Homo sapiens: one gene and its partners. The protein of the gene in region 4 interacts with the protein of the main gene of each other region in a pairwise test. Each region holds a gene or a part of one and is shown on either strand. Other genes may lie near its edges. The genes, in order: CNN3, QSER1, CRLS1, F2RL1, OSTC, ATP2C1 and TMEM161A.

What was found.
Region 1: the proteins of F2RL1 (region 4) and CNN3 interact in a two-hybrid assay, tested with the Homo sapiens proteins (one large-scale study listed by BioGRID and IntAct).
Region 2: the proteins of F2RL1 (region 4) and QSER1 interact in a two-hybrid assay, tested with the Homo sapiens proteins (one large-scale study listed by BioGRID and IntAct).
Region 3: the proteins of F2RL1 (region 4) and CRLS1 interact in a two-hybrid assay, tested with the Homo sapiens proteins (one large-scale study listed by BioGRID and IntAct).
Region 5: the proteins of F2RL1 (region 4) and OSTC interact in a two-hybrid assay, tested with the Homo sapiens proteins (one large-scale study listed by BioGRID and IntAct).
Region 6: the proteins of F2RL1 (region 4) and ATP2C1 interact in a two-hybrid assay, tested with the Homo sapiens proteins (one large-scale study listed by BioGRID and IntAct).
Region 7: the proteins of F2RL1 (region 4) and TMEM161A interact in a two-hybrid assay, tested with the Homo sapiens proteins (one large-scale study listed by BioGRID and IntAct).

The regions. Positions count from the first base shown.
Region 1 is NC_000001.11:94,903,111-94,906,610, forward strand, and holds part of CNN3 (calponin-3), read right to left. Parts: intron 415-3,500; coding exon 293-414; intron 79-292; coding exon 12-78; intron 1-11. UniProt on the Homo sapiens protein: Thin filament-associated protein that is implicated in the regulation and modulation of smooth muscle contraction. It is capable of binding to actin, calmodulin and tropomyosin. The interaction of calponin with actin inhibits the actomyosin Mg-ATPase activity.
Region 2 is NC_000011.10:32,891,386-32,895,610, reverse strand, and holds the start of QSER1 (glutamine and serine-rich protein 1), read right to left. Parts: upstream 2,801-4,225; 5' UTR 2,486-2,800; coding exon 2,277-2,485; intron 1-2,276. UniProt on the Homo sapiens protein: Plays an essential role in the protection and maintenance of transcriptional and developmental programs.
Region 3 is NC_000020.11:6,012,623-6,016,122, reverse strand, and holds part of CRLS1 (cardiolipin synthase (CMP-forming)), read right to left. Parts: intron 763-3,500; coding exon 633-762; intron 1-632. UniProt on the Homo sapiens protein: Catalyzes the synthesis of cardiolipin (CL) (diphosphatidylglycerol) by specifically transferring a phosphatidyl group from CDP-diacylglycerol to phosphatidylglycerol (PG).
Region 4 is NC_000005.10:76,829,030-76,832,422, forward strand, and holds part of F2RL1 (proteinase-activated receptor 2 preproprotein), read left to right. Parts: intron 1-3,393. UniProt on the Homo sapiens protein: Receptor for trypsin and trypsin-like enzymes coupled to G proteins.
Region 5 is NC_000004.12:108,664,099-108,667,598, reverse strand, and holds part of OSTC (oligosaccharyltransferase complex subunit OSTC), read right to left. Parts: intron 353-3,500; coding exon 334-352; 3' UTR 1-333. UniProt on the Homo sapiens protein: Subunit of STT3A-containing oligosaccharyl transferase (OST-A) complex that catalyzes the initial transfer of a defined glycan (Glc(3)Man(9)GlcNAc(2) in eukaryotes) from the lipid carrier dolichol-pyrophosphate to an asparagine residue within an Asn-X-Ser/Thr consensus motif in nascent polypeptide chains, the first step in protein N-glycosylation.
Region 6 is NC_000003.12:130,956,584-130,960,083, reverse strand, and holds part of ATP2C1 (calcium-transporting ATPase type 2C member 1), read right to left. Parts: intron 810-3,500; coding exon 743-809; intron 1-742. UniProt on the Homo sapiens protein: ATP-driven pump that supplies the Golgi apparatus with Ca(2+) and Mn(2+) ions, both essential cofactors for processing and trafficking of newly synthesized proteins in the secretory pathway.
Region 7 is NC_000019.10:19,128,479-19,131,978, forward strand, and holds part of TMEM161A (transmembrane protein 161A isoform 1 precursor), read right to left. Parts: intron 1,830-3,500; coding exon 1,678-1,829; intron 1-1,677. UniProt on the Homo sapiens protein: May play a role in protection against oxidative stress. Overexpression leads to reduced levels of oxidant-induced DNA damage and apoptosis.

The DNA of each region.
Region 1 (3,500 bases), on a different chromosome or scaffold from region 4:
TTGGCTGTTACCTGAGGCCAGTTCAGTGAGGACTCGTTGACCTTCTTCACTGAGCCTGGCTGTAGCTTGTTTATAAGTCTGAAAAGAAAAATATGAGAGACATCTTATTTACTGGCACACAAAAACAAGGATTGAAATATCAAGTTGCTCCCTTTAGCATCAGTAAGGGAAAGCATTAAAGATATCTGTAGAATATCAAGGTCTGACACCCTGGGCTGAGAAGGAGAGTGAGAGAGAAGGCTGTGGAAAGAACTGGAAGAGCAGAAACAGATTCTGGAGGGCTGTAACTCACTCGCAGAGGATGATGCCATCCTTTAAGCCCAGCTGGAAGTTGGGGCCAATGCTCATGCCTGTCACCTCTTCTATCCAATTGCGAAGATCTTCTTCTGCCTGATGATCATACTTGGAAGCAATCTGAAATACAGGTTAACTCACTTTAGAAGAATTTCACAAAAGCATCAGAAACTGCCGACTCACAACGCGCTCTGCTTTCACTAGCCATTAAGACCACAGCTGTGAAGTGTAGTAAATGACACTCAATAGATCTCAATGGCAAACTTAACCGTTACAACTTCAGTAACTAATAACAAATTTTTGGTGAAGACCGTGTCATACAAAATTTTGAACAGACCATGGAGAGGCTGGGACTGACAAGGAGAGAACATCAATCAAGAGACATCAGATTTCATGATCCACAGGAAGTGACAAGGATTTAATGGTATGTTACAATATGGCACTCAAACTTTAAGGTTTAAGTCATTAATCACCCTATTCCAAAAAAAGCTGGGGAAAGGATTCTGACACATGCAGTTATTTTACAGAGTATCTCACCTGGCCAATACATAACATTCCAATAGTTTTGTTGACTGGAAAGTTCTGGTATTTGCCTTCTATTCAGCCAAATACACACTATATACTAAACACACACACACACACTTTCCTCAGTACTAATTACTGTACAATATTTAAATTCTGTTTATGTAGTCTCTATCCTATTAGACTTCTTACAGGCAGGAAAAGCATCTAGTTCATTCAGATTCTTAGTATCTAGAATTGAACCTGACACCCAAACATGTGATAAAACTAAAAGAAAGTTTAACTTTTTACTTGCAGAATTCAAAAATAAAGGCCAACTTACCAACACAAATGCTATGCTATTATACATGGTAAAACTATTAAACATAAGTTTTGAAAGATCCCTTTTTAATAAGACCAGACCTCAATTTAAAATAATTGAAAAAATAAAATTTAAACAAAATATTGTGAAAAAAATCACATGCCCAAGTTCTTAAGCTATCCCTTGTCCTGGAGTCCCCTTAAAGTGGCTGGTCAATCAGGGTTATGGAGAACACAGCTGAGGCAGGCATAGTGGCTCACACCTGTAATCTCGGCACTTTGGGACTGAGCTGGGTGGATCTCTTGAGTCAGGAGTTCGAGACTAGCCTGCACAACATTGAGAGACCTTGTCTCTACTAAAAATAAAAAATTCAGCTGGGCTTGACGATGCATGCCTGTCATCCCAGTGACTTGGAAGGCTGAGGTAGGAAGATCACTTGAGCCCACGAGATCGAGGCTACAGTGAGCCATGATCACACCACTGCACTCCAGCCTGGGCAGCAGAGTGAGACCCTGTCTCCCGCCCCACTGCCAAAAAAAAACCCACAGCTGGGAAGAAGGAAAGATCCAGTATCATTTGTCTTCTCATTCAGCACTGGTGAAAATGCCAAGTATACATAGGAAATGCTCAGGAGATAGAGATCATGAGCTTGGGAATCAATTACATCATTGGAAATGGGAATGAAGGTAGAAATGTCTGCTGTGTCCATAAGACATAGGGAGGTTTAATCATTGGAAGAAATGAAATGGCATCTTGACATTTTAGTCACAAAGAAGTCCCACAAGTTCCAGTCTACACCACTCACGGAGGAACCAAGCAGAACTGTGGGAAATGCCCTAGGTTCATAGTGCCAGAGCATATAGGACTGTGGGCTGCATTCAGGTCCTTTCCAAGGGAGAGAGCCTGATCACCAGGATCAGGACAGACATTTACGAACCTGGCCAGCTTACCTGTAAGTCACCCAACAGTGAAAACCAACGCTGAGTCTTAAAAAACAGATTCAAAGCGTACACTTGATCACAGTTCCTTTTTGTGTCCATCAAAAGCCACAACAGCCTTTTAACTTCTCAAGGTAGGAAAAACATCCCGTTTCCCAGGTCAAGTAGGTGGAAATGTCTACATTCCAGGTCCCCCTCTTGAAGGCTCACCATGCACCTGAGCCTGAGAGATCCCCTGGCACATAATCAGACCACTCCTGGGCTGTTTTCAGGGCCTCTTTTCCCCTCCCCGCCACGCCAAGGCATGAAGCTTCTGCTTTGACTGAGAGAGGGCAAATGATTTCACTAAATTACTGTGGCATTAGGGAGATGGCAGTTCTTGATCCTTTGCACCCTTTACCCAAGTTGGAGAAATGGCTCTACAGCTTTGACAGAATAATGGATAATTGATTTGAACTGTAGATTTACTTAACCAGAATTACAAAAGAAAATCCAGTAAGTTTATATTTTCATATTAAGACGACTAACTTTGCAGTGTTTCATGGATCAAGTCTGGCCTGGAGGTTAGTTTATAAAAGACAGTCTTAAATACAATTTGTTTTCCAGGCTAGTCTCAAACTCCTGGTCTCATGCAATCCTCCCGCATCAGCCTCCCAAAGTGCTGAGATTACAGGCATGAGCCACCACCCCCTGCCTCCATTACTCCTATTATACCTCAGATAAATATTCTTGGATAATATATCTCCTCCAACACATCAAATAAACCCATTTTTATGGCACTTTTAGAAAATAAAACAAAAATTGGCAGACACATTTTTTAAAAATATTTTTTTTTGAGATGGAGTCTTGCTCTGTCACCCAGGCTGGAGTGCAGTGGCGTGAACTCAGCTCACTGCAACCTCCACCTCCCGAGTTCAAGCAATTCTCCTGCCTCGGCCTCCCGAATAGCTAGGATTACAGTCACACACCACCACGCCACGCTAATTTTCATGTTTTTAGCAGAGACGGGGTTTCACCATGTTGGCCAGCCTGGTCTCGAACTCCTGACCTCAGGTGATCCGCCTGCCTCGGCCTCCCAAAGTGCTGAGATTAAAGGCGTGAGCCACTGCGTCCAGCCGATAGACACGTTTAAGTCTTGACTATATTTTTACACTGGGGTCTTGTTCTGGGTGCCTAGAAAAATAAATTCTCACTATATAAACTGGAGGTGGTGGTATGAAAGGGGATAGGCAAAGAAGAAAAGGAGAAAAGAGTACTCCTCAAGCATTAACTATGGAAAGCAAATACTAATTGTAAGGTGATTTTTTTTTTCCCCAAAAGTGAGGGCGTTCTCAACTAGGAGATATATTTTGATCAATCTGAAGAAAAACATAATATGCTAGGGTGAGAGGAGTTCTGCCTTGGCGCCATGCCTGGCTCCATCTATCTTTGCTATGGGCCTGGGT
Region 2 (4,225 bases), on a different chromosome or scaffold from region 4:
CAAGAAACTGCCACAAAGGGGAACAAAAACATTCAACTGATATGTGCATTATGAAAAAGCTTTTTAAAATGGTATAAAAATATAAATAAGCTTCTGAAGTGTAGAATATTTAGACTTACAAGGCATATTTCAGATTTGCCATTTTTGATATAACTGAAATCAAAGGGAATATTTGCACAGTTTGAGGAATAAAATGAGGTATAATTCAGAAGTGTAACTCTGTACAGATGGCCTGATCCCAATACAAGATGTTAACAAAGCAGGCTGGCGGGGGAGGGGGGTAAACCTGCATTTTCTATGCTGTATTTTAGCTGATTCCCCCCACCGCTTATTTTTTAAAAAAGCAGGGGGAGAGGGCATGAGGGGTAATATTTAAGATTCAATAACTTCTAGTAAACAGAAAATAAATCTCCTTTAGATTATGTGTGCCAAGTGAATCTACTTACTGTTTTCAAGTGTGTTTGGGAAGTCATTTCGTGTTACTCTGATAAATAACATTTGGAAAATATGACAAGTAGATTTTAGTTTCTTGCCTCAGAAGTATTCTACTAAAAGAAGTAACTAGGTAGTATTTCAGTTCCATTTACCTAATAAATATTTTTCATTTAAAAGATAAAAAATGCGGCACAAATACCTATCATGCTGTTCAATGATGAGAAAGTAATTTTCATTTGTAAATTATCCTAGTCAATGCAAAAAGCTACTTGAAAAAGATAGTCAAATTACCATCAGCAAGAAATAATGGGTGAAGTGCCAAACGTCTTTCATGAAACTCCTTAAAATGGCTTACTTGTATGTAATACAAAATTATGGCTATTTCTGAAAGGTTTCAGCATTTAATTACTTAGCTCCAAATTGGCACATCACATTATTTTTGTTAACTCCCAAGTCTTGAAAACAAAGGGCCTAAAATTTTCTGAGAAAGCTTATATTCCTATTCTTGAAGCAAATTTTTCTCATTCTTTCACAATCGTCCCAATGGACAATCTAAGACAAAGACCAGCTACCCTTCACACTTATTTGCTCAATCATGAACGTAGAACTTTCGTAAAAACAAAGAAGATAACCTGGAACACGGTAATGTATAAACTTAAAACAAAAGTTCACTTCTGTCGTGAAAAATAATGAAGAAATCTGATGAGATCATAAAGCCACGAAGCTTCCTGTTGGTAGCTGAGGATGAAGTCATTAGCAACCCAGGATTCCCTGGTCCATGTAATCAGAAGCTGCACCTACCAGATTCTGTATTGTTCGGGAGAGGTGGCTTTAAAACACCCCGCTCACCAATTCTCCAAACCAGACCACGCCTTCCAGTTATCATTCAAATGGGACCGTTTCACAGTGTGGCACTACTACACATTTCCCGCGAGCTTAAATATCAAGTAGGAGTCAAAATTTTAGATTCCCTTGGTCATGCAAGATGAACTCTTGAACCCCACGCTACATAATGCACCCGGACCTTAAAGGCCGAGATGGAGAAGCATGCTTTGGTTCTTCAACCTTTACGGCCTTCACTACCCCCACCCCAACCCCCGCCCCATTTCTTCCCAACTCTCAGTCACCCCGAGGCATAGAAGGCAAAGAAAGATTCCTTACTTCCTGCTGTTGTTAAAAGGGGAGGAAACCTAAGAGCAACTTTGAACGCGTGGAAGAAAAATCGCCTAAATCTTGGCCACCAGCGCAAACATATGTCACCCGGCCCTGGAGCCGCGTTCGCGCCCTGCCGGGCCCCCTCTTCTGCCCTGCGCCCCGGGGATTCTCCCGTAGCCCAGCCCTCCCGGGCCCCCCAGTGTCTCCGGGACGCGGTTCCGCGACTCTTCCTCTCCCGCCTCCGCAACCCTCACACGCCGGAGTCCCCAAGACCGCATTGTCGGCCACCCAGGTTCCAATACAATGGATCGCCACTGCCCCAAACTCTCCGGCGCCCCCTTCGGACCCCCGGCGCCAATCCTGGGTCTCACAGATCCCGAGTTCAGCCACGAGCCCAAACTTCACCATGTGAGAGCCCAGGACCCAAGAGGTGACGGAGCCCCACGACTCCCGCCCAGCTATTCCTTCACCCGCCGTCCCCAGGCGCGAATCCTGCACCGGGCGCCCCCACCTACCCGCGACCACCCCGTAGGAGTCATCAGCCGCCTCCCCCGAGCTGGCCGAGGGCGAGCGGAGGGCTCCCCGCCCGGCCCAGACCTCTGGGCGGCGCTGCAACCGAGCGAAGGCCCCAAACGCATCCCCGGCCTTTCCTGGTCCACCGCGACCCCGCCGCCCACCCTCCCTACCTGGCCTTGAGGCTGGGGCTGCTGCCGCTACTGCAGCTGCCACTGCTGCAGCTGCTGCTGGCGGCGGCGGCGGCGGCTCGGGGTTCGTACGCCCAGGCTGGGGCGGGGGGCTGCGCAGCGGCGCTGGCGGGGACGGGGGCGGCGGGGGGCGCGGGCGGCGGCGGCGGCGGCGGCTCGGTGAAGCCCGAGGTCGCGTAGTTCCTGTCCATCGTGGGGGTGGCGTAGGGAGGGCGGGCAGCAGCGGGGGATCCTCCAGGGCTCCGTGTGACGGGGGCGGGCAGGGAGAGGGGGCGGGGGAGGAAGAGGGGGCGGCGGCGGTGGAGGGAGCTGCCCCCTCACATGGCCCCGGCGAGCAGGCGGGAGAAGGGCGCGCTGGCGAGTCTGGGCCGCAAAGACCCGGGCCGCGGCGGGCGGCGAGGCCCCAGCTGGGCGTCAGGGAAGCGGAGGCACCCGCGGCCGGGACTCGCGGCGACGGCGGCGGCGGCGGCGGCCGCTGCGCCCCATGTTGGTGGATTTCCCAGGATGCACCTCCCGCCCCCCTCCGCCCCGCGGCCTTGCCCCGCCTCCCCTCTGAGCCCCGCGCTTGCCGCTCGCGGGGCTGGCGGGCGGCCGCGAGGCCTCCGCCACCGCAGGACGCTTCGCGAGGGACAGTTGGGGCCGAGAAGGCGCGGGTCCTGCGGGGCCCGGCCGACTTCAGGGACTCCGAGGGGCGCCCGCCAGCCGGAGCCCGCGAACCGCAGACTTCCCGCCTTCCGCAGCCCGGAAGGGAGCTGTCCGCACTCGCCGCGGCCCGCGTGGGAAGGGACCGCGCCTGGCTATCGCCCCGCGCGGGGGAGGGGAAGTGGAGTGGAACCCAGCGTAGGGCGCTGCTCAGGGGTAGCCGGGTCAACGCTTTGCTTGGAGCTCACTATTTGACCCTTCGGGTTATTTTGAGGGACTCCAGTACTCAGTTCCCTGATCGCGATTTCTTTCTCTGCGCCCCAATCCAGAAACAGCTGAGCGAGCTCTTTTGCAGTTCCGCTTACTCCCTCCCCAAAGCTTGCTGGGCTAGAGGACCCTTTTCCTGCTGTTAGGGGAGATTTATATTCAAAGAGATTCAAATTCAAACGTATTATTTTCCAATCCTCGCTGAAAGGGCCTTTCCCAAGGGCTCTTATTAACTGTCCCCACCCCCACCTTGGGGATTTTTCTCGCTCTGGGTTTCAGAATCTTCTATCCCAAGATAGATAACCACCTCTTCATTGATTAATCCAACTACCATCTGGATGACTTTAATTACAATAAATTTAAACTCACCATGCACTCTGATGTTGAGGGGTTTTGTTTGAGACTTGGAACTTCAGCAGGACTCTCTCCCCAAACATTTCCTATCTGATCTCCAAGCTGCTTGGTGTGCGGTAATTTAATGACTATTTGCGGTTCTTCTGTTGCATAGCAGAGTTGTATTTCTTGTAATAACTCACAAGTATTGAAACTAGGGAATCGTACAAATCATCGTTTGGCCCTTGGGCCATAAATTTAAAGGTTAAAATAACAGTAAAATTTCTATTTAATGACCACCTCCTTTTAAAAATCAATATTGGTTTAACACCTATTATGTGCTTAGCACAGAAATCTATCCCTCAAGATAAGCATAACATAAAGGTTTAAGCAAATCAGCCGTAGTGAAAGACCTAATAAACTTGATACGCTATCTCTGATGACCATTGAAAAAGTTTAAACTTTGGTAATAATCTGGTGTTGGATCTGCTATGCCTTGCGAGATTAATTTTGTTCTGGAAGATCCTGTTTTCCTCCTGGCGCCTACATCCTTTTGTTCCTATTCATTCCTTTTTGCAAGTCTTTCTGCACCTGTGATGCTTGGAGCCTGGTCCCCGGGTGGGGAAGCAAGGAAGTGAGTAGTCGTTATTTACACATGAATTCAAACGTGTAGGCACAGCGACTTTGCC
Region 3 (3,500 bases), on a different chromosome or scaffold from region 4:
AGATATGATTCCTAGCTCTTGGGAAAAAAACAGTTTAACTTGGTCTGAGGGAGAAAAACTGAGAAATACGACTGAAGAAGAAAATGAACAATCAGAAAAGCACATGCAAAATACAAAGCAAAAAAATCATGAAATCTTATCAGAAAAAGTATTCATATAATGTACAAACTATATATATGATTTAAAAATTGCATAATAGGGTCTACATAATGTGAAATTTTATAGACATCTTCAGAATTTCAGAGTTCTCACTTATGATTAAACGATATTAATAAAGATAATAAACGTAGGAAAACTAAATTGCTTTTGAAAAGCTAGGCACTAAAAATACATAATGTATCACCAAAAAATTTCAGAGTAATATGAATTGGCACTGTGAAATATTTATTCAATTTTAATTTTAAACAATCTTACTAGGAAAGCAACTGATTTTACTAGTAAAACAAGGACATAAATTCTAAAATCCACAAGTAGTTTGACAAAACAGTTCAACAGTTTAAAATTAGGGAAACAGTTTAAAGTTGAAAACTATATTTTTGGAACAAAAATTATTTGTCTCTCAAGAGAAATCCTAAGCTGACTAATGTCATTCTTCCCTGTGCTATTCAAAAGTACGCATGACGCGTTCTTACCTGGAATAAGATCTGCATAGGTCAAGCTAACATATAAGATACTGATAAGTATTTTATCAGCAAGTGGATCAAGAGCACTTCCCAAAGCTGATCTTTGATTGGCCCAGTTTCGAGCAATAAATCCATCCAACTGAAAATAGAAGTTTTTTTTTATATATATAAATGTCATAACAGGAACAAAGCAGATATTCTGAAGCTTAAGATATACCAGAATAACAATTATACTCTCATAAAATGTTAACAAAATGTCTTCTGTTTCTTACCCCCAAACATTCTCATTCTTTTGCTGGTATACATTTCGCTTTTAAATTAGCAACTGGTCTTAAAATAAATGCACATTTATTTTCTTTCCCCCTCAAGTCCTTCTGGTTATTTCTCGGTATTTTCACAAGGCCCCTTTGTGGGATGAACCCAAATACACATTTAGAGATACGGTTAGTGATGTATTTACAGCTATAAAGAACCCAAAGAAAACTCAAAGAAAGCATGAACGGCAGAGCCTGGACTAGGATAATATAATCCAACTCTGTTAAAACTTACCATTTTTCTGTTTTTCAACTCATTTTGCTCAATACCACTGTTTATTCCATACTCTGACTGTATCTGCATTACCTACATTTGAATAGAAAACTCAATCCTCTCTACCTGGCCTAGTTAAAATTCTGATACTTAAATTATTTATTTTTATATTATTGTGATTAAAAATAAACCATTTAAAGCATAAGTCACATCTAGTTGCTAGTGGGCCAAATGGAGCCTGTAAGCTGGTTCTGTTTGACCTATCAGAGCTTTTAAAAACTGTAATTAGTTATCAACATGTAAGTATTCAATTCTTCCCATAAAAACCCAGGTCTCCATCCTAACTTGAGAAGGGAGCGGTCTGGCCACTCTGGGGCCACAAAATGGACTGAAATCAAGTACTGTCTATTCACATTAAACAAGGCAGATATTTTCTGGTTTATCCAAGTCCCTTCCTGGCTTTTACTCATTTAACTTCAAGTTTCAACAAATGTTTGAGTTCTCTAATACTATTTCTAAGGGGAAAAAAGATTAATTTAGACGCAATTAATCATGGTTCATTTTAAAGAACAAGTAAGTTGTCCATATCTCAAGTATTCCAATGAGTTAGAGGAGACAGCGGTAGTCCAGGACCGTGGTAAAAAAAAATGTGGTCTTTGTAGCAGAACAGAAGCTGTTCAAGTCCTGGCTCTGCCACTTAGTAGCTGTGTGATCTTGGATAAGTTATTTGGCCTGACTAAGCCTTAGTTTCCTCATCTGTAAAACAGAGATAAATTACCTACCTCAAAGGGGTGGTTGTCTTCAGCACACAATGTGATTAATACTTGTTCAGCACTCAGCACTTAGTAAATCCTCAAAAAAAGCAGTTACTAGCTATTGCTATTGCAACTGAAAAAATCTATTTCCTTCTTAAGCATACGAACAGAAAAGTACCTAGCCTGGGGAGCTGGGACCTTGGAAGATCAGGTTTAGTTCAGTTTCTGACCTCAGGGAACTTAACCTTTCACTTTTTCGCCATCATCACCCTCTCATCTTCACTATTCCTCTAATCCACACTAGATTCCAAGGTCATCAACATCATTCCTTTATAAACATCTGTAACTCCCCTTCACTCCACTCTCCTTCAACACTGCTTAAAAGCAACTCTCCATGTACTCTGGGCCTGCACCTAAGAGCTGAATAGTGCTTAAGGAAAACACACAAATGGGAAGACTGGTCTCACTTCAAACTGATGACCACAAATCTCCCATGGGCACCCAATACTGCCTAGCAATCCCACACTTGTTTACCATATTTACCCTCTCTTTTCACACTGTCTCTTCCACACTGTCTCTGCTCTCACCTCAGACCTAACTCCATCCCTCTCGCTCATGGTCATGTCTGTATTTTCCTTAAGGAAAAAGAAAACCGTAGTCAGCCCATCCTCATATTCCCATCATCAAATCCCCCACCTACCTGCATCCATTCATTCTCTCTGCCTTCCTTCATCCGTTCCCATGCCCTCTCACCTTCTGTGACCTGCCTCCCTTCTTCCCCATCTCCCCTTGCATCATCCATCTCTCCCTTTCATTTAATCTTTCTACCTGATCATTTAATTAATCAGTTAACTAACAACAAAAATTCACTGGGCACAGTGGCACACCTATAGTCCCAGCTACTTGGAAGGCTGAGGTGGGAGGATCGTTTGAAGCCAGGAGTTCAAGGCCAACCTGGGCAACACGAGATTTATCTCAAAAAAAAAAAAAAAAAGGCCAAACAAAAATTCCCCAGTATATACATATACTCCAGCATATATTTTTATATATAGGATTTTATATCTATCTATCTATATACACATAGATATAATTCCCCAGTATATATCTTTTTAAAAGACCCTTCTGTGATCCTATTTCTCTATCCCCCTACAAAGCAAAACTGCTTCAAAGGAACGTCCAATGTCATTACCATCTCACATGTGTTCATCGACCCACTCCAATCGTCCCCACCCCTCCAGAGGTGAGGCTCATAAAGGTCACCAAGGAACTCCGCATTTTTAGAGTACCTGACCTCGACACAACTGAAGCACTTTCTCCACTTTCTGGGAAATCTCACTGCCTAATTTTCTTCCTCGCCAGCTATTCCTTCCCAGGGTTCCTGACTGGCTTCTTTTCTGGTGCTTTACTTGTTGCTCATTTCTCTGACCCTTCATTCCTGTTACCTCAGCCTGGATGATTTTACCCAGATCCAACCATCTATATCTGACAGCTCCCAAATTTCTCTCTCTGTAACGATGACTTCCTCCAACTCCAAACTACTAAACTGCCCAACTGATACTTCTATGTGGATAGGCAACAGAATTCTTAGTATTCT
Region 4 (3,393 bases):
TGCTTGAACCTGGGAGACGGAGGTTGCAGTGAACCAAGATCGCACCACTGCACTCCAGCCTGGGCGACAGAGTAAGACTCCATCTCAAAAAAAAAAACAAGTTATTTTTATGGTTTGTTTGAATCAGGATTGAAACAAGGTACACACATTATATGACTGATATGTCTTTTAAATCTTCTACTCTATAAATTTCACCTCCACACCTTTTTTTTACCTTTGTTCTTCTTCTTCTTCTTTTTTTTTTTTTTGAAGAGATGGCATTGTGCTATGTTGCCCTGGCTGGTCTTGAACTCCTGGTCTCAATCAATCCTCCTGCTTTGGCCTCTCAAAGTGCTGGGTATTGAAGGCATGAGGCACTGTGCCTGGCCCTCTTTCTTATTTTTTGCCTTATAATTTATATTTTGTAAAAAACAGGTCCTTTATCCTGTAGCAGTTCCCAGAGTCTCAATTTTACTGACTACATTTGTGGTGTTGTTTAACACTTTGCCCCCTTCATTTCCATTAATTTGGTGTTGGATAATTTCCACAATAACTGCACCAGTTGCTCAGTCTATAACACTAATCAAGCACTGAATCCAACACCAAATTAATTTCCAGTATGTTACTTTCTAATTGTTACATACATTGTCATTCTAAGTTAAGTGGCCTGTGAAATCAGTGTTAAAGAATAATAACTGGCTTTTTATAATAATGGAATAGAATACAATAGAAAGTATCAGTGCACCCTATGTAATAAGAATAATTATTATTTTGTGAAACGTTTTTCCACCATGGATATGTGTATTGGGAACTGGGTTAGTATGTGGAATATGGTTCTTAGGGGTTATGGTCAAATATTTGAAGAACACTGTAATATGTAGGAATTTTTTTTAAATTTAAAAACAACATATGTTCTTTTTGAAGAATTATATAAAAAAAATAGAACCACTAGAAATAGGACTATCCTAAGCATATTAGTTTCTTGTGGCTACCATAGCAAATTGCCATAAACTGATGATGTAAAACAACACATTTATTCTGTCAGTTCTGGAGACCAGAAGTCTGAAATCAAGGAATTGGGGCCACAAGCCCTCCAAAAGCTCTAAGGGAGAGTCCATTCCTTGCCTTTTCCAGCTTGCAGTGGCTGCTGGCATTTCTTGGCATTCTTGGCCTGTTCCTTGATGTGACTCCAATCTCTGCCTCCATTCTCATGTCACTCACTCCTCTGGCTTCTCCTTTTCTGCGTGTTGCAGATCTCTTTCTGCTTTTCTCTCTGTTTTGTTGTTTGATACAGACTTTAACTCTGTCGCCCAGGCTGGAGTGCAGTGGCGCAATCTTGGCTCACTGCAACCTCCGCCTCCCAGGTTCAAGCAATTCTCCTGCCTCAGCCTCCCAAGTAGCTAGAACTACAGGCGCCTGCCACCACGCCCGGCTAATTTTTGTATTTTTAGTAGAGACAGGGTTTCACTATGTTGGCCAGGCTTGTCTTGAACTTCTGACCTCGTGATCCACCCACCTCAGCCTCCCAAAGTGCTGGGATTACAGGCGTGAGACACCACGCCAGGCCTCTGCCTTTATCTTAGAAACGACACTTGTCATTGGATTTAGGGCCCGCCTAGATAACCCAGGGAGATCTTCTTATCTTAGGATCCTTAATTCTATCTGCAAAGACATTTTTGCTAAATAATGTTCACAGAGTCTGGCGATTAGGACATAGACTTCTCTTTTGGGGGCACCACCTTTCAACCCACTACACTAAGTGAAAAGTGAAATATTGATCTCTACATCCCCCAACACTCCACCCAGGCTAGCATCCCAAATAGGGAAGCATTAAGATGTGAAAAATTCTGCGGAACATTAGTGTAAAGCTTCTAGTGGAAAAATGATGACCAAGCATAACATTATGAGATAAGAGCATGAGTAGGTTTAATATCCCCCTGGTATACGGCAGTGCAAGTATTGCCCTGTCTTCTCTGCTTGGTGAGGCCTACTTTTCCCCAGAATTAGAGTAAAATTATTCAGTATCCTTATATTGTCCTTACTTACTCCTGCAGGTTCATGAATACTTAGGGGCAGAATGTAGGGAGGACATGCCATTCATTTCTTTGTGGTTTTTAGGTCAACTTCATAATATAAGAGAGGGATAATAAGTTAGCTTGTCATGCTACATGCTTGAAAGTCTGTCATCAGTACAGCCACCTATCCAGGCCAGACGGTTTCCCTGCCAGTTGGCCTCCATGGGACATTCTCCAGGAAACCAGCACATGAGCAGGGAAAATCCCTGCCATTGTTGAGGCTATCGTTGTGGGTGAAAAGGGAATGTCCCTTGTGGTCCTGGAATCTCCCTGTGGCAAGCTCTGAATAGGGTATGATGAATTGAATAGGCCAGGAAGGATCCTGGCTCAGGGCTAGAGTGGGATAGAAGGCCATTATGAAGTGAGAAATTAGAAAACTGGTGTCAGGATGGGGATCGCTATTTTACACACTTGAGAATTTAGAAAGGAATTACTGCACATTCCTAAACTGATTTTTTTTTTTTTTTTTTGACTGAGGCTCGCTCTGTCACCCAGGCTGAAGTGCAGTGGCATGATCTTGGATCACTGCAACCTCCACTTCCGGGGTTCAAGCGATTCTTCTGCCTCAGCCTCCCAAGTAGCTGGGATTACAGGCGCCTGCGCCTGGCTAATTTTTGTATTTTTAACAGAGTCAGGGTTTCGCCATGTTAGCCAGGCTGGTCTGAAACTCCTGACCTCAGGTGATCCACCTGCCTTAGCCTCCCAAAGTGCTGAGATTACACGCATGAGCCACCATGCCCAGCCAAACCAAATTTTACTAATTGATAAATCAAAGGACTGTTGTTGGTCATGTGATAAGAATAGCTAGAGCTGGGCGTGATGTCTCACACCTGTAATTCCAGCACTTTGGGAGGCCAAGATGGGAGGATCACTTGAAGCCAGGAGTTCGAGACCAGCTTAGTCAACATAGCAAGACCCCATCTCTAAAAAAAAAAAAAATAATAAGTAAAATAAAAAGAATAGCTGGGGACTAATGAGTGTGGACAGTTTGTAAAAATAAATTGAAATATTGTTAGTCTTCTTTATATTCCTAGAAATCGATGCTCCACATGCATCCCACAACTCCTTACAACTCCCCGATACAAAAATACTCACTGTAAGAAAAAAACCCATAAAACCAAACTAAACCAGACAATAGAAATCCCAATAATCTCATTACACAAAGAAAAGCCCCTATAAGCATTTTGTGTAATCCTCTAATAGTACATTTCTGTTTTCATCTAAAGTACTTTCATTTGAGGCTGGGCTCAGTGGCTCACACTTGTATCTCACCACTTTGGGAGGCTGAGGCAGGAGAATCTTAAGGCCAGGAGTTTGAGAACAGCCTGGGCAACATAGT
Region 5 (3,500 bases), on a different chromosome or scaffold from region 4:
TAAGAGGGTTGTAAAAAATAATCACTTTATTTGATATTATAGTTGTAGATATGGAATATATTTTAATGAAAAACTAAAAAGAAAATGCCACTCAACATCATTGGTATAGCAATAGGCCAGCAGGAAAAAAAATTCTGTGATAAACTTGTCTCTTTAATACCAAGAAGAAATTCTAGTCCAAGCTTCAATACGCTTCCTGTTTTTTCACTAGATATTTCTTTTACTGCTGCTCTTCATTCTTTTCCACATTTCATATTAGAGGATTGGTACAGCCTTTAAAACTTCATTGACAGGAGCAAATCCAGTATCCACTGATTTCTTCTCAAAGGCACTCTAACCCATCAGATAGCCCCTGCAGAAATATAATTATAAGCACAAAAAGTGAAAAGAATTGTTTTTATATTCTCTTATTATCATAGTATTTCAAAATGCCAAAACAAATTTTATGATATATCAAATAACAATCCAAAAATATAATTGCGTGATTCTTTATTATGGTCCTTATTTCATATTTTGCCCCCCTCACCCCAATATACAAATAAATTACTGAGCCTCAGTTCTACTATCCTTCCCTCTTTTTCCTTTTTTTTTTTGAGATGGAGTTTTGCTCTTGTCACCCAGGCTGGAGTGCAATGGTGTGATCTCAGCTCACTGCAACCTCCGCCTCCCGGGTTCAAGTGGTTCTCCTGCCTCAGCCTCCCAAGTAGCTGGGATTACAGGCGCGTGCCACCACACCTGGCTAACTTTTGTATTTTTATAGAGACAGGTTTTCACCATGTTGGCCAGGTTGGTCTGGAACTCCTGACTTCAGGTGATCCGCCTGCCTTGGCCTTCCAAAGTGCTGGGATTACACGCGTGAAGCCCGGCAAAGTTTTTTTTTTTTTTTTGAGATGGAGTTTTGCTCTTGTTGCCCAGGCTGGAGTGCAATGGTGCAATCTCGGCTCACTGCAACCTCTGCCTCCTGGGTTCAAGCGATTCTCCTGCCTCAGCCTCCCAAGTAGCTGGGATTACAGGTGACCGCCACCACGCCCAGCTAACTTTTTCTATTTTTAGTAGAGACGGGGTTTCACCATCTTGGCCAGGCTGGTCTCAAATGCCCGACCTCAGTTAATCCATCCACCTCGGCCTCCCAAAGTGCTGGGATTACAGGTGTGAGCCACCGCGCCTGGCCCTTCCCTCTTAAAGTTACAAAGCAGTATGCCAAACAACACAGAATAAGAAAAGGAAGTAAAGAAAAGAAAATGATATCTAAAAGTTAAAGTTAAGAGTCAGAATCAATCTATTTTAGGCTCTCAGAAGTGCAACAAAATCAAAATTTTTTTTATGTAAAGAAACTGGTTTGGATTTCTAAAAACTCTAATATTACCAGAAGAGAAGTGGGAGAATCAGAAGCTATTCAGGACTGGGAGGTGAGCCTCTGAGACTTCAAAAAAGTGTGCACAAACATCTGCCCCTGAACCTCTAATACTTCAGGAAATGTCTGGATAACAGTTAGGAGCTTTAGCTGTACCTGCTGGTAAGGTCAAACTTCATGCTGGTCAAACAGGAGATCCTTTTATTAAATGTGCAAGTTAGGCCCTGAAATCCCCTTTAAATTAAAGCATTAAATCTGGTGTTATAAAAGTTCCAAACCTTTCCTTTGGCAATAAACCCTTAAAGTCTATTATTAATTAAGAATCTACAGGATCAGGAAAAAAAAATGGAAAAATTATGTACAAGTATCCACATTAAGAAAGGGTTGGGCTGGGCATGGTAGCTCATGCCTATAATCCCAGCACTTTGGGAAGCCGAGGTAGGTGGAGCACCAGGTCAGGAGTTCGAGACCAGCCTAGCCAACATGGTGAAAACCCACCTCTACTAAAACTACAAAAATTAGCTGGGCGTGGTGACAGACGCCTGTAATCTCAGCTACTTAGGAGGCTGAGGCAGGAGAATTGCTTGAACCCAGGAGGTGGAGGTTGCAGTGAGCCAAGATTGTGCCATTGCACTCCAGCCTGGGCAAACAGAGTGAAACTCCATCTCAAAAAAAAAAAAAAGAAAAAACAAAACAAAACAAAACAAAACACAAAACATCCTGGCTAACATGGTGAAACCCCGTGCTCCAGCCTGGGCAACAGTGCAAGAATCCGTCTCAAAAAAAAAAAAAAAAAAAAGGTTTACAACACCTTATACTCACTGACGGCTTCAGAACGCCTCTTCTTTTGACCCTGCTTCTACCACTTACTGCATGAGCCTGGCAAACCTCACTCAGTTTCCTCATCTGTAAAATGGAGTTACCTCAAAGGGTTTTAAGGATTATAAGAGAATCTACTCATATAGTAATTGCTACTCGTAGTTACATGCACTTCACAAATGTTAGCTGCTATTTTTAGAGTCCCAAGTTTCTTCACTGGTAACGTAAGATTTAAAAACTACTTGACAATACTGAGGTCTCCTCCAGTGCTTGGCACACAGCAAACACTCAAAAATGTGACTTCCCTCCCTTTCAGCTTCTGAACTCACTTGACTCCCTGTATGATTAGACTTATGTTCAGCCAATGCAATCAACCTAGAACTCACACACTCTTCTTTCTGCTGTATCAGCCTGGCCAATCCACACACTCTGAGTAAAGAGAACTTTCATCTAACACAACCACCTTGACAACCAGATACTTCTCACCTCCTCCCAAATCCAAAACTGAACAAAAATTTAAAAATAAAAAGGTTTGGCTGGGCACAGTGGCTCACGCCTGTAATCCCAGCACTTTGGGAGGCTGAGGCAGGCGGATCACGAGGTCAAGAGATTGAAACCATCCTGGCCAACACAGTGAAACCCCGTCTCTACTAAAAATACAAAAATTACCTGGGTGTGGTAGTGCATGCCTGTAGTCCCAGCTACTCAGGACGCCGAGGCAGGAGAATCACTTGAACCTGGGAGGCGGAGATTGCAGTGAACCGAGATCATGCCACCGCACTCCAGCCTGGCAACAGAGCCAGACTCCGTCCCCCACAAAAAAAAAAAAATTAAAAATTAAAAGGTTCTTTGGATATATACATTGAATTTAAAGACCTCACATAAATTTGCTACTATAATGCCTGATGTGTCACAAAAAGGATACTTTAAAACATAAGCTTCACAAGAAAAAAAAAAAAGGTTCAAGAAGATTTTAAGCAAGCATCCACTAATATCTGCACTCTGTAGTAGAAGTTACCCAACAGCTAGCTTACACTATGAAACAAGAGTACTAAAGACTCATTAGGAGTAACTTCTTGTAATTTGCATATACCTATATGTGAATATACACTTTGTACTCTATCTCTTAATATAGCTATATATTATGGTATCCTTCCTTGTAACTAGTGGGTGACCCATGCTTGTCAACCTATATTTAGATAGAAAAGAATATTTAAATAGACATGTCCTGTTCAAAGCTGCCAAACTTAAAATAGTTTTACCTTAAGGACAATTTGGGAGATACTAAGAAATATTATAATGTTATAACGATACCATGTTAGAAAAA
Region 6 (3,500 bases), on a different chromosome or scaffold from region 4:
GGTTGAAGTTTTTTCCATTCTGCTTGGTATTTAGTGAATCCTTTCAATCTATAAAGACTTACTTTTTGCCTTAGCTTGAGAAAATACTTGTGTGTCATATCTTATGTAATTTTTGAAACTCCAATTAGTTACAAGTGGTATTTCCTGAAATTATTCCTCTTCATCATTTTATCTCATTCTAAGACTTTTTACTCTTTTTGGGGGGAGACCTCTTTGAATTTATATTACACCCCTACAATTGAATTTTTAATTTCAACAATCATAATCTTAATTTCTAAAAACTCTTTTTGTTCTCTGATCCTTTTCTACAACAATTTATCTCATGGATGCAGTTTCTTCACAAGTCTCTGAAAATACAAACACTTGGTTTTTAAATTTGTCATCATTTCTTCAATGTTTCGTTTTCCTCTGAAATTGATTATTCAATTTCTATATTGTGAACTTTCTCTTTCATGTTGCTAGTTTTCAATTTGACAATCCTTAATTGTATATTTATATATAAAAAGGCAATAATGCATTAGTAATTCCAGACATCTAGTATGGGTTTTCTTCATTACCATATACATACATTTTCATTTTTCTAAGGATAATTTTAATATATGACTTCTGAACTATTTATGTAGCGATGTTATACTCTTATGGGCTCCATGTAATACTGATCTCCATAATAAAACGTAAGCTATGTCCATTAGAGAAATAAAAGAGGCAAAAGAGACTCCAATTATAAAGTATTGAGACTTACCTTACACTAATAGTAAACATTTCCAGGATATCTTTTCCCAGTAACCAGCCAACCAACATGATGATTCCTGAAAGATAATTAAATAGTTATTTTTCCCTTTTACATACAATCACCTAGAAGGAACAGAACAAGCTGAAGGAATCTAAAACGTCCCTTGACAAAAAAGGGAAAGCATATCAGATCACAATTAGAAGATTTTATAAAAATCCATTAAACAGGGGAGGTTAAAGTTAACACTGCTTAATGTGAATGCTGTGCATACTCACATACGTACATGTGTGCACACACACACCACACATGCACACACACACACAGTTTTACTTTTGGTTGACACTGCTCCTACCATCCCTTAAAGCAGTAATATTTTATTATTTTTTTAAAAATTACCAGTATGTTCATACAATGAAAAAAAGAAGGTGGCAGCAAACATATAGGTCTTCTATTTAATATCAAATATGCAAAATTAAACCCTAAAACTTTATTTTCCATAACACAATATCCAGACACTTCTCAGCAAATCCATACTACACACAAAGGGACACTTACGACTTGGCTCAAAAAGTGATGTGCCTTACGTTAAGCACCTACAACTGCATTAACATCTAAAAATCACTACTTTTATGGCATTTCAAAAATTTAAAAATCAATTAAACCAATACTCCTTGCTTTAACCTTTTATCTTTGAAAAGAATAGGGGGAAAGGGGCGCACAAGCAGGTTTGTGAGGAAAAAGCAAACAGATTCACGAGAGGTTTGATAAAATAAGCTATCTCAAGACTGCAAATCAATATGAACATTTAAGACAAGTTTTTTTTTTCATCTTTATATAACTAAAGAATAATTATCCAAATAGCAACCTTCTAAGATCCTATCCCAAATACTATCATGATGAAAGAAATTATGTCCAAAGGATTATACCAGGGGTCAGCAAACTATAATCTGTGGGTCTCCTGTCTGCTTAGGTAAATGAAATTTGTTGGAACATAGCCACACTCATTTATTTACATATTTTCTATGATTGCTTTCATGCTAATGGCAAAGTAAAGTATTTCCAACAGAGACCATATGGACTAAAATATTTACTATCTAGTTCTTTACAAAAAACAAAAAAAAACAATTGCTGACCCCTGATCTAGCTCTTGACCTTGGCAAGAAAAATTATGTCCAATGTAATATACTAACATATAACCAGAGATCGTAAAGTTGAAACATATTTATTACTAAATTTGAAATGGTTTATGGTATAGTGCTAATAGAAACTACAAAGATTTAATTGGCTAGAATGTCATTCGATCTATCAAATTCACTATAAAATTTCTAGAAAATGAGCAATAATCAAACGGAAGAAGTTATGAGGGCATACACACCAGTAAAACAAAAATAACTAAGATAACTTCCTACCTTCTACTTTATGTTTACAATGAAGATAGATGGATAAACAGAATTACTATTTACAAAGTTATTTCAACTAATATTGTATTAACAGAAATATTGCTTTAAAATTGCATTAGTCCTGTAATCCCTGCACTTTGGGAGGCTGAGGTGGGCAATCACATGAGTTCAGGAGTTTGAGACCAGCCTGGCCAATGTGGTAAAATCCCGTCCCTATTAAAAATACAATAAAAAAATTAGCCAGGTGTGGTGGTGCACACCTGTAATCCCAGCTACTCGGGAGGCTGAGGCAGGGAAATCACTTGAACCCCAGGAGGTGGAGGTTACAGTCAGCCGGGATTGCGCCATTGCACTTCAGCCTGAGCAACAAGAATGAGACTCCATCTCAAATAAAAAAATTGTATTACTGACTTTGAAATACTAAACTAGCTGGAATAATTAACACGGTAAGAAAATTAAAGGAGAAAAGACTCCAAAATTAATGCAAGTGCTTAATGTGTGATAAAAACGTGACTTCAATCCAATGAATAAAGACTGGATTACAGAATTAATGGGATAATTAACTTGAGTAAAAAAGTTAAAACTCTGCCTTAAGCCATGTACTAAAATAAATTTTAAATAAAATAGTAAAATGTCAAAAATAAAAAACTATACAACAATGTTTTAATAAATGTTCTTATAAACATGAGGTTGGGAAAATCTTTAGGAACAGAACAAAACCAACTTAATTGCAGAGATTATCAATAGGAGGGTGATAACAGAATCTCAAGGAAAAGGGGATGTTTTAACCCATTTGTGTCTGAGGTTGCAATTTTTTGAATTTTTGCAACCAGACCTTGGCAATGACCTTGAGCAGTAGGATATAAATAAGTCCCACATGCTTAGCATTCCAATAATGGAACACTAGGCATAAATGGTTAATTACATATATTGTCCTCTTACCAAGTTTATTCCACATGCCTCAAAGGCAACTTAAACGGGAAAAAAAAACTTATACAACAAAAAGATTGATAATCTAGTCATATAAAAAGCTTTTATCAATCTAAGACTCAAGACACAAGAAAAGGGACAAAAGAAATCGTTGGCAGGTCATAAAATGAAATAAAAATGATCAACCCACACATGACAAAGCATTCGGTTTCCCTAATAATGAACTGTGAAATCAAATAATGAGAACTCTTTTATTTACAGTTGAAGTTAATGACAATACTTAAAGCTGGCCAAAAATTTAAAAGTTACATGGATCCCCTTTGACTAAATAATTTTATTTCTAAGAATTTTTCCTTAAAAAAGAGAGGTATTTACCAGAAGACACCACACTAAAGAAGTATTTATATGACCAAAAAAAAACCCTCAAAAAATCCTAA
Region 7 (3,500 bases), on a different chromosome or scaffold from region 4:
CTTGGCCTCCCAAAGTGCTGGGATTACACATGTGAGCCACCACACCTGGCCTACATTTTTTTTTTTTTTTTTTTTTTGAGACGGAGTTTCACTCTTGTTGCTCAGGCTGGAGCACAATGGCTCGATCTTGGCTCACCACAACCTCCGCTTCCTGGGTTCAAGCAATTCTCCTGCCTCAGCCATCCAAGTAGCTGGGATTACAGGCATGTGTCACCACGCCCGACTAATTTTGTATTTTTAGTAGAGACAGGGTTTCTCCATGTTGATCAGGCTGGTCTTGAACTCCCGACCTCAGGTGATCTGCTTGCCTGAGCCTCCCAAAGTGCTGGGATTACAGGCATGAGCCACCATGCTCGGCCATCTAAATATACTTAATGCCACTGAGCTGCACATTTAAAAATGGTTAAGATGGTGAATTTTATGTTTTGTCTATTTTACCACAATGAAAAAAAATTCAAAGAGAAAAAAGATTCAAAGATGGGCAACAATGTGAACAGGTATTTCACAAAAATTTCACAGAAGAGACATGAATCATGAATAAACAGGAAAAGGTGCTCAACTTCCCTGGTAATCAGAGACATGCATGTTAAGGCCACAGAGGGCATCATTCCATGTGACGAGGGCTAGGTTGGCAAAAATCAAGCCCTATCCATGGATCTTGATTCATTTAAACCTTACTGCCGCCCCCTTGGGAGATTGGTGCAGTCACTACCCCACCTACTTATTATTTGAGGGGTAGGTTTGCAGGTACTCATATGATTATTTTGCTTTATAATTGACATACACATCTTCTTTGTATATATCAAACATATATAATTTTAAAAACTGAAAGGCAGGGAGAATTGGAGAAGGTAAAACTCAAGCAGTCAGCAGGGTCATGTGGGCCATGGTGAGGGCTATGGTCTTTCTCCTAAGACCGGGGGAGTGTGGTGCCGGGCAGAGAAGTGATGAGGTCCAAATTATATGTTAAAAGGATCATTTAAGAGGCCAGGCACGGTGGCTCACACCTGTAATAACAACAATTTGGGAGGCTGAGGCGGGCAGACTGCTTGAGCTCAGGAGTGTGAGACCAGCCTGGGCAACATAGTGAGACCCTGTTTCAATAAAAATAAATAAATAAATAATTTTTTAAAAAAATGAAAAAAGAGGCCACACACAGTGGCTCATACCTGTAATCCCAGCACTTGGGGAGGCTGAGGTGGGTGGATCACCTGAGGTCAGGAGTTTGAGACCAGCCTGGCCAACATGGTGAAACCCCATCTTTACTAAAAATACAAAAATTAGCCAGGCGTGGTGGTGCACACCCATAATCCCAGCTTGGGAGGCTGAGGCAGGAGAATCACTTGAATGCAGGAGGCAGAGGTTGCAGTGAGCCAAGATCATGCCACTGAACTCCTGCCTGGGTGACAAAAGTGAAACTCCATCTCAAAAAAAAAAGAAAAAAAAAGAGCTATAGCCATGAGTGTCCATCAGAGACAGTGAGAGAGGCAATGTCCTGTCTTCCCCAAAGCCCAACAAGGTTCAGGAGCTGAGATGGTCACTAATGGGGACTGCCTTCACCCCAGGAGCCCACTCCTTTGCCTACTCGTGCTGGACACGGAGCCAGTTAAACCATCTTGGTCAGATTACATGAGGGAGTGACAGCTGCGGTGGCCCCACGTTGGGGGCTGCACTTACCAGGCTCCAGGCCCAGCTCGAGGGTCTCCTCCCGCACCACTTGCACCAGCATGGCCAGCAGCAGGAAGAGGAAGGCAAAGGTGAGGCAGACAGAGCGCTCACCCCCCTCCTCGGCGCTGAAGTACAGCCGTGTCACTGTCAGGAACATCTTGCTGGAGGCTGGAGCTAAGGAGGCCTCAGGTGCCACTGCCCCACTCTGCCCATTTCACCACACTCCGTCTGGGACCCCAGAACTCCAGGGAACAAGCACTGCTGCACAAATAGGCCTTGGGGATGACCTAGAGGAGTTCGGTTTTGGGGTGCTGGATCTCAGATCAGGATGTGGGCTGGGGGTTCCCGTTGAGTGGGAGATGGCCTCATCAGGCCACCGTGTCTGTACAGCCTCCCGCCCTGGGTGACCCTGCCTCTTTCACCCACCTCACCTACTTCACATCCCTTGGAAAAGCAATCAGATATAGAAGGGCTTCATCTCCAATCTGCTGTCAAAATGCAGCATGGGGGCCAGACACAGTGGCTCATGCCTGTAATCCCAGCACTTTGGGAGGCCAAGGCAGGAGGATCACTTGAGCCCAGGAGTTCAAGAGCAGCCTGGGTAACATAGTGAGACCCCCATCTCTACAAAAAATAATTTTGTGGTAGCCCCTGTGGTCCCAGCTACTGGGGAGCCTGAGGTGGGAGGATCGCTTGAGCCCAGGAGTTTGAAGCTGCAGTGAGCCCTGATTGCACCACTGCACTCCAGCCTGCACGACAGAGGGATATCTTGTCTCAAACAACAACAACAGGCCAGGCGCAGTGGCTCATGCCTGTAATCCCAGCACTTTGGGAGGCTGAGACAGGTAGATCACCTGAGGTCAGGAGTTTGAGACCAGCCCTGACCAACATGGTGAAACCCAGTCTCTACTAAAAATACAAAAATTAGTCAGGCATGGTGGCGCATGCCTGTAATCCCAGCTACTTGGGAGGCTGAGGCAGGAGAATCACTTGAACCCGGGAGACAGAGGTTGTAGTGAGCCTAAATCATGCCACTGCACTCCAGCCTGGGCAACAAGAGTAAAACTCCATCTCAAAAAACAAAACAAAACAAAAAACAAAAAAGCATGGGAATCTGGGGAACCAGTGGATTTTAAGACAGGTTTCCCACTCCAAAAGTCACAGGAGTAGCATTCTTTCTGTGCTTCCTCAGACTTGGGTCCCCAAAGTCATGTATTTGCTCTCTTTGGGAGGCCAAGGCAGGAGAATCACTTGAAGCCAATCAGGACCAGCCTAGGCAACAAAGCAAGATCCTGTCTCAACAACAACAACAAATATATATACATGTACATACATACACACACACACATATATATATATATACACACACACACACACACACACACAATTTTTTGGGGGGATGTAGTTTCGCTCTTGTCACCCAGGCTGGAGTGCAATAGCATGATCTTGGCTCACTGCAACCTCCACCTCCCGGGTTCAAGCAATTCTCCTGCCTCAGGCTCCTGAGTAGCTGGGATTACAGGTATGCACCACCACCCCCGGCTAATTTTTGTACTTTTAGTAGAGAAGGGGTTTCTCAATGTTGGTCAGGCTGGTCTTGAACTCCTGACCTCAGATGATCCACCTGCCTCGGCCTCCCAAAGTGCTGGGATTACAGGCATGAGCCACCGCGCCTGGCTAATTTTTGTATTTTTAGTAGAGACGGGGTTTCACCATGTTGGCCAGGCTGGTCTTGAACTCCAGACCTCAGGTGATCCGCCTGCCTCAGCTTCCCAAAGTGCTGGGATTACAAGCATGAGCCACCATGCCTGGAGTATATATTTTTTAAAATT